Homo sapiens: one gene and its partner. Changing the gene in region 2 together with the main gene of any one other region gives a genetic interaction. Each region holds a gene or a part of one and is shown on either strand. Other genes may lie near its edges. The genes, in order: ATG10 and NLE1.

Region 1 (3,818 bases), on a different chromosome or scaffold from region 2:
CATGCATTAATGATCTCATGTGGTTCTCACAGCAACCCTATGAGGTAGCTTGTTAGTTTCAAATTAAAGATGAGGAAAATAAGTCTCAGGGACATGAAGACTCGCTCAAGAGCCCTCAAAGAGTACAGCAGAGCAGCTGTGGGGTTGAGAAGCAGAGGGGTAAAATGACCATTGTTTTATTACTATAGGTCAAAAAGAAATTTTAATGTTTAAATATCTCCTATAGCTTTTTAGAAAACTTCTAATTACTATGCCACACTTTGCTGGTAAAACATATTATCTCACAGTAAAATATTGTGTTTTTTCTTTGTTTTACAACTATCTACACAAACACCCACACATACACACACACACACACACACACTCACACTCACTCTCTCTCTCTCTTTTGGAGTAAAACAGAAATAATCTATTGTTCCTGAGTTTGATTGTGGGAAAATCACTTAAGATAGGTCATGTTTATAACACCAGTTTCAGGGACAGGTAAATCCAGTAATTTAATTTTTATATATCTTACATTAAAATGAACACACAAATACATTTCTCCCTCAATCTCCATGTCAGACAAATGGAAGTGAAGTACTTGGCCTAGAAAAGAATAACCTGCAAGTGCCCTAATAATGTTGGTATTCCTAGTATTAATAAGTTAGATTTGTTTTTTTGCTATTTATAGTGATGTGTCTTTTTTTTTTTTTTTTTTTCCCCGAGACAGTGTCTGGCTCTGTCACCCAGGCTGGACTGCAGTGGCACAGTCTCAGCTCACTGCAACCTCTGCCTCCTGGGTTAAAGCCAACCTCCCACCTCAGCCTCCTGGGGAGCTGGGACTACAGGAACACACCACCATAAACAGGCAAATTTTTGTATTTTTTTGTACCGACAGGGTTTCACCATGTTGCCCAGGCTGGTCTCGAACTCCCAGGATCAAGTGATGCTCCCACCTTGGCCTCCCAAAGTGCTTGGATTACAGGTGTGAGCCACCATGCCTGGCCATGATGTATCCCTTTGAAGTGTTTCTTCTAAACATTCAGCCTATCAAACACCAGTTGCTGTAGACATTTGTGTCCAAGGGAAAAATAATCCATGTCACATCTTGGTGAGATGAAATATTCCATGGTATCAGTCCTATTAAAGCCAGGGCTGGCCAGGTAAACTCTTGGCATTCTTCGTGCCGCAATTCCTAAACTCAATAGAAGAATCTGAAGAACATAAAACAAAAGCCAAGAGAATAAAAGAAAAATAACTGAGCAGTAAAGACTTATTTAAGAATATCAGTACTAAAATAAAACTATCCATTCCTGTCACTGAGTGCATGCTACTTACAGCAAAGTAAAATATTTCCTGAATTGGTGGCCCCCAACCTTTTTGGCACCAGGCACCAGTTTCAGGGAAAACCATTTTCACAGACCGAATGGGAGATGGTTTCAGGATGAAACTGTTCCACCTCAGATCATCAGGCATTGGTTAGAATCTCATAAGGAGCGCGCAACCTAGGTCCCTCAGATGCGCAGTTCACAATAGGGTTCACATTCCTATGCAGATCCAATGCTGCAGCTGATCTGATAGGAGGAAGAGCTCAGGTGGTAATGCTCGCTTGCTTGCCCACCCAGCTGCCGCTCACCTCCTGCTGTGAGGCCTGGTTCCGGTCCATGGCCTGGGATTTGGGGATCCCTGTCCTAAATAACTTGGTAGGGGACTGATTGGAAAACTAAAAATTAAGTCAGGGTTTGCCCACTAAAGATGAAAGCAAATTTTGCATTTGGTGGGATGAGTCTAAATGCAATGGAGACATTGATCTTTGTAACGGCAAAACATTAAATCCAGGCTTTTCTTTTACCTTGTTAAGGGACATTTCGTTCATCCTGAGACGTTGCTTTGGCATAACTCAGAGGTAGATTCAGCCCAACAACTGGCCCTACAATGCTCAGCCATGATGTGATATAGTTGACATTCCTAGGAAACAAGTGAAATACAGGCCATGCTAACGTTTCCATTGTAGTTTTTGGATGAATGGTAGAACATCAGTTGGTCACCAACAATAACAAAAGTGAGGCTTTCTTCAAAGATTTGTACCTACCACCTGGAATCTCAGCATTTCTGAATGCCAGCCCCATTGCTTGACAAGAATTTAAGGTCCAGAGAGCCTGTAAGGATCCCTCATTAGGGTAGTTGAAGAATGAGGTAAGGTACTGGCTCCTGACTTCCCTTGATGATTCAAATTTTACCCTTACAGTTTACAGCACTTACTAAGGTAGCAGAGTGCAGTGATTAAGAGCATGGTTCTGAGGCCAAAATGCTTAGATTCAAATCCCACCACTTAACTAGCTGTGTGACCTTGTTTGAGTGGCTTAACTCCTCTGTTCTGTAACTTCCTCCTCTGTAAATTGGGCAAAATAATAGTACTTAGCACATAGGAATGCTGCAAAAATCCAATGTCTTACTGTATCTAAAACTCTTAGAACAGCATCTAGCATATCCTAAAAATCATTGTGTTAGCCATTATTATTATTAATATTTCTTTTTTAGCCTAGCATTTAGAGTCACATAAAAAGATTTACACTTTTAAAATCAGAGTAGAAGCCAATGTATCTTGATGGTGTTTCTTACTTATTGATTTTCTGAGAATTCTTTAATACAGGAGTCATGAATTCATTCGTCTTGCAGGGATGAAGTACAAAAAAGGGTTGCCCAAGTATTGGATGTTCCTGTAAGAATCAGAATTGGTCCAGGATCAGTGTGAGTTACTTTGAAAAGGCTAAAATAATTTATCTGGTTTACTCCTTTAAAATAAAGGTTTGTCTCAAATTCCAAGTTATTGAATTAATATACAGGTTTATTTTCTATTTTTAAAAACAATTTATAATCCAAACATCAGAAGAAGTTGGTGAGAAAGGACTATTCATTGATAAAGCAGTATGGTCGAGTATAGCAGGGCACCCATTTTTGTTTACACAATATAAACTGTAGTTGCATTTTATCAGTTCCCTCTCTGTTGGCCAGTGTTTCTCTTTGGCCTATCATTATTCTTCAGTTTTTCTTCAAGGATGTTCACAAAGCTCAGTAGTTTGACAACCTAAACAATTCATTTTATTCACCTCTTTGTCAATGGTAAGAGACTCAAAATCATTTGCATATTTCTTTACACAAATTTTGTCAACATGTTGTTTCAAGCCTACATGTATCCAGTGCCAGTGGGCACATGTTCCACGAGTAGAACCAGGGATGGGAGGAGATGGCCTGCACTATTTAAATTGTTCTACTTCTGTTTGTCTCTCTCTCTCTTTCCGTCTCTGAGTTTTTGTTTTTCTTTTTCCTCATTTCTCTCCTTCTGTCTCTCCCAAGCCTACAGGGCTGTTTTTATAAGTTAAAAGCCTGAAATGTAACTCTGTTTCTTTTATAAGGTAGTAATTGGATATAAGATATAGGTCAGACCATACCCAAGTTAGGGACGTGGACATCATTTGGCAAGCAATGGGGAGCCCTAGGAGGTTTCTATGTAGTGGGTAATCTGTGCACAAGTTCTACCAACAAAAACACTATTATTGATGATACATTTATTGATTATTTGTATTGTGGATTAACCATTATACCAACACTGCAAACTCAAATACCTATGAAGACAAAGCAGGTGACCTAAGGGGATAATGCCAGCTAAATACACCAGCAGATGACGGGGCCCGTGAGAAACTGCCGAGTGCACCCATCCAAGGCCATGCTGGCTACTCTGCTCCAGCCAACTGTCCCATGTGGGAATGCAGGTTCAGCATGCCAGACCTCCCTATTTGTGAAACTAACCTAGAAAAGCTGAAGTTTATGTTAAA
Region 2 (3,818 bases):
GGCCACACGCATTCTCAGGTCCCCACTGGTGGGGAGGGTGTGTGCACTGCCATCTCAGCCTTTGTTCTCTGGCAGGGAAGGCAGCTGGCAGAGGCCGAGTCGAGGTGGGGGTCAGAGAGAACTTCGGGCCGTCTCATCTCCTCCATCTGTGGAGAAGGGAAGGGTGTCAGGATGGGGATTCCACCTTAGGAAAGGGAGGCCGTCATATAATCCCAGTGTCAACAGACGGACGGCCTGTGGTCCACCCTCAGAGTCACCAAGAGCCAGGTGACCGTCCCTGCTCTGCCCACCCAAACTCAGGCTGCCCACTCACTGCCTGCTGCCACCAGGACCTCCACCCAGGGCCTGGCCCTCGGGATGCCCACCAGCAAACAGTCACAATCCCTTATAAGCACACAACACTTTGTCTTCCAGAGTGTTGACCCTCCTATTTTTGATCCTGTCTGTGAAGGTTTGATAATTCCCAAGAGACTGATTAACCAAGTTCTCTGTGATTACTCCATGGCAGAACCAGGATTTGAACTCAGGTCTTGCGACTCTGAAGTCTAGTGACAGAAAGACCTGGATGCGCCCTCTACAAGGTGTCCTGTGGCCCCTGTTGTTCCGGTGGCCCTCCCACTTGCCCACTGACAGAAAGACCTGGACGCGCCCTCTACGAGGTGTCCTGTGGCCTCTGTTGTTCCGGTGGCCCTCCCACTTGTGGCCCTCCCACTTGCCCACTGAGAATCTGGCTCCACACGCCTCCTCAAGACAGTCTGAGCACCTGGACGGCCCTGCGGAATTCTATGCTGTAAGGGAAAGTGTGCACAGAAGGACCTTAGGGGTAGGAGGGCTGTGTATGCCAACCACCACTTCCCCCACACTCACATCCGGAGGCATTTGTCCTTCCCACCACTTGCCACTCTCTGGCCATCTGGACTCCAGTCAACAGCATATACCTAAAGGGAGGCAGAGGAAGGCAGGTGGGGTGGTGAGAGGGAGACAGCCAGCCAGGCTCCAATCCCAGTCCCTCCTTTGCCTGAGGGTTGGCCCTACCTCATCCGCGTGGCCGGGCAGGTCCATGGCCAGCTTCTGGGCCTTCACATCCCACACCTTCAGTGTGCTGTCACTGCTGCCGCTGACCAGGAGCCGACTGTCAGCTGACCACGCAATCTGGTACACGGCAGCCACGTGGCCGCGTAGGGAAGCCAGGTACCTGGTCCAGGAGAAGACGATGATGGATTTTAGTCTGAGTTACATCTTTCAACACGTCTGAAGGGTCCCCTACGCTCATGGCAGTGGTTCTCAACCTCGGCTGTCTGTTAGAAATACCTGGGAACCTTTACAAAATCACACTGCCTGGTCCCCATCCCAGACCATTTTTAATCATTACCAGTCATTACAATTTGTAAAACTTCTCCAAATGAGTAGCTTCTAGCATGCCTCTTGCTTGCCCTCCATACCTGCACAACTTTGCATGCCTTAGACTCCAACGTGGCCATCTGCTTAGCCCATCTGCCTGTCATCCCCCCAAACAGCAAGTGCCTGCTGACAGGTGGCATGGAGTAACAGTGGGCCCACTGAACTTTCACGTCAACACAGTCTAGCTGTTTCTCTTTGGACAAACCATCAGGCCTCTCTGAGACTCATTTTCCTTATTTTAAAAAGGAACCCAATTACCTATCTTAAAGGGTTGCTGTGTGAAAACACAGTGACGTCACTAACGCAGAGGTCCCCCCTTCAGCCCTAACAAGGTTTCCCTGGCTCTTTTTCTCCCCCTTGCCTGTGCCTTTGCCTCTCCTCTAATCCGATTAACCCCAAGAGCACTGTGCCTCATCACACCAAGGGTTCCCATACTTGAGTGGGTAGCAGAGTCACCTGGTAACTTTGTTAAAATGAAGAATCAGATCCACAAGGTCTGAGTTGGGGCCAGGACTCTGCATTTCTATCAAGCTCCCAGGTGATGCTGATGCCGCTGGTCTGTGGCCCACACTTTGAGGAGGGCCAAGTAACAATTGTACCACAAGCCTACCTACCACCACTTCACCTTCTCCAGGGCTACAGCCCTACCTCTTCAGCAGCTAGCTCTAAGATCACTTCTCTCCTAAGACATAAACTAGCATTTTTTTTTTTTTGAGACACAGTATCACTCTGTTGCCCAGGCTGGAGTACAGTGGTGTGAACTCGACTCACTGCAACCTTTGCCTCCCAAGTTCAAATGATTCTCCTGCCTCAGCCTCCGGGGTAACTGGGATTATAGGCACGTGCCACTATGCCTGGCTAATTTTTGTATTTTTAGTAGAGACAGGGTTTTGCCATGTTGGCCAGGCTAGTCTCGAACTCCTGAACTCAGGTGATCTGCCTGCCTTGGCCTCCCAAACTCCTGGGATTATGGGCATGAGCCACCACGCCCAGCCTGAACTAGCATTTTTAGTGACCACTTAGTGCGGGTCCTAAACATACTGTCTCATTAAATCCGTGTAACTAGGCTGGGCATGGCGGCTCACACCTGTAATCCCAGCACTTTGGGAGGCCGAGGCAGTTGGATCACTTGAGCTCAGGAGTTCAAGACCAGCCTAGTCAACATGGTGAAACCCCGTCTCAACTAAAAATACAAAAATTAGCCAGGCACGGTGGCGGAGGCCTGTAATCCCAGCTACCTGGGAGGCTGAGGCAGGAGAATCACTTGAACCCAGGAAGCAGAGGTTGTAATGAGCCAAGATCGTGCCGCTGCACTCGAGCCACTTGAACACCAGGTGACAGAGTGAAAGTCATCTCTAAAAACAAACAAACAAACAAACACCTTGTAACAAAGCTGAGAGGTAGGGGGTCTGCATATTACCAAAGAGGAAACAGTGGCTTAGAAAATCCAAACACCTGCCAAGGCCATACAGCTAGTAAGTGGCAGTGCCAAGCCCCTCCCACCATTCACTCCTTACAGAGAAGCAGTACCCACCCCTACTCACTTGCCCGTCCTGCCATCCCACAGCTTGATGGACTTGTCAAAGGAGGCACTAGCCACGATGCGGGAGTCAGGAGAGAAGAGCACCTGGTTGATGAGAGCTTGGTGTCCTGTCATCCGAGTGAGAGGCTTTTTGTCCTCTGCTGGGGACCACAGGAATAAGGTGAAGTCGTCGGAGCCAGACACCAGCCTCTCTGGACCCTGGCCCTAGGGGAGGCAGAAAGCACACTGTGTTGGGTGTGGTCTCAGAAAGAAGGAGGAGGGCCCGACTTTGGCAGCAAGCATACACCCTGATTACTCAATGCCAGGGACAGAGAGAGGCCAGCGCTAGGAGCAATGAGGACTGGCTTGGCCACTCACTCGCATGTGACCCCAGGCAAGTCACTTCATCCAAAAGGAAAAAGAAACTCTACATGCATGTAGAAAAAAATTTTAAGATACATAATTACAGAAAAAGGCACAAAATAATGTGTTAAAAGAAGGATTTTATGTATGTATGCATGTGTGTGTGTGCTTATACATATATACTGTATATAGACACGTGTCTGTATATTAAATCTCTGGAAGGTGATTCAGGATACTGGTGGCACTGGATGCTACAATAGAGACGGGAGACTCCGCGATCTACCTTTTGTATTTTTTGAACGTGAATGTGTGAACAATCTTAAACAACAAATTAAAGTAAAAAAGAAGCATGTTGGAAATGTAATAAATAGACAAGCAAATAAACTAAACAAAAAACGAAATAAAATGATCTCTAGCACATTAGTATTTTAGGATTGCAAACTAGGATTATGAAGAACAACTTTTTGGAATAGGTACATTCTGAGCTGGGTCTAGAAGGGAGAAGGGTCTGAGAGGGTTTTAGTGATTGGCT

The links.
Region 1: of NLE1 (region 2) and ATG10, changing one suppresses a phenotype caused by changing the other (phenotypic suppression), as found in Homo sapiens cells (one large-scale study listed by BioGRID).

What each region holds. Positions count from the first base shown.
Region 1 is NC_000005.10:82,251,446-82,255,263, reverse strand, and holds part of ATG10 (ubiquitin-like-conjugating enzyme ATG10), read right to left. Parts: intron 2,703-3,818; coding exon 2,605-2,702; intron 1,951-2,604; coding exon 1,839-1,950; 3' UTR 1,835-1,838; intron 1,197-1,834; 3' UTR 1-1,196. UniProt on the Homo sapiens protein: E2-like enzyme involved in autophagy. Acts as an E2-like enzyme that catalyzes the conjugation of ATG12 to ATG5. ATG12 conjugation to ATG5 is required for autophagy. Likely serves as an ATG5-recognition molecule. Not involved in ATG12 conjugation to ATG3.
Region 2 is NC_000017.11:35,132,304-35,136,121, forward strand, and holds part of NLE1 (notchless protein homolog 1), read right to left. Parts: intron 3,149-3,818; coding exon 2,946-3,148; intron 1,196-2,945; coding exon 1,036-1,195; intron 939-1,035; coding exon 868-938; intron 147-867; coding exon 134-146; 3' UTR 1-133. UniProt on the Homo sapiens protein: Plays a role in regulating Notch activity. Plays a role in regulating the expression of CDKN1A and several members of the Wnt pathway, probably via its effects on Notch activity. Required during embryogenesis for inner mass cell survival.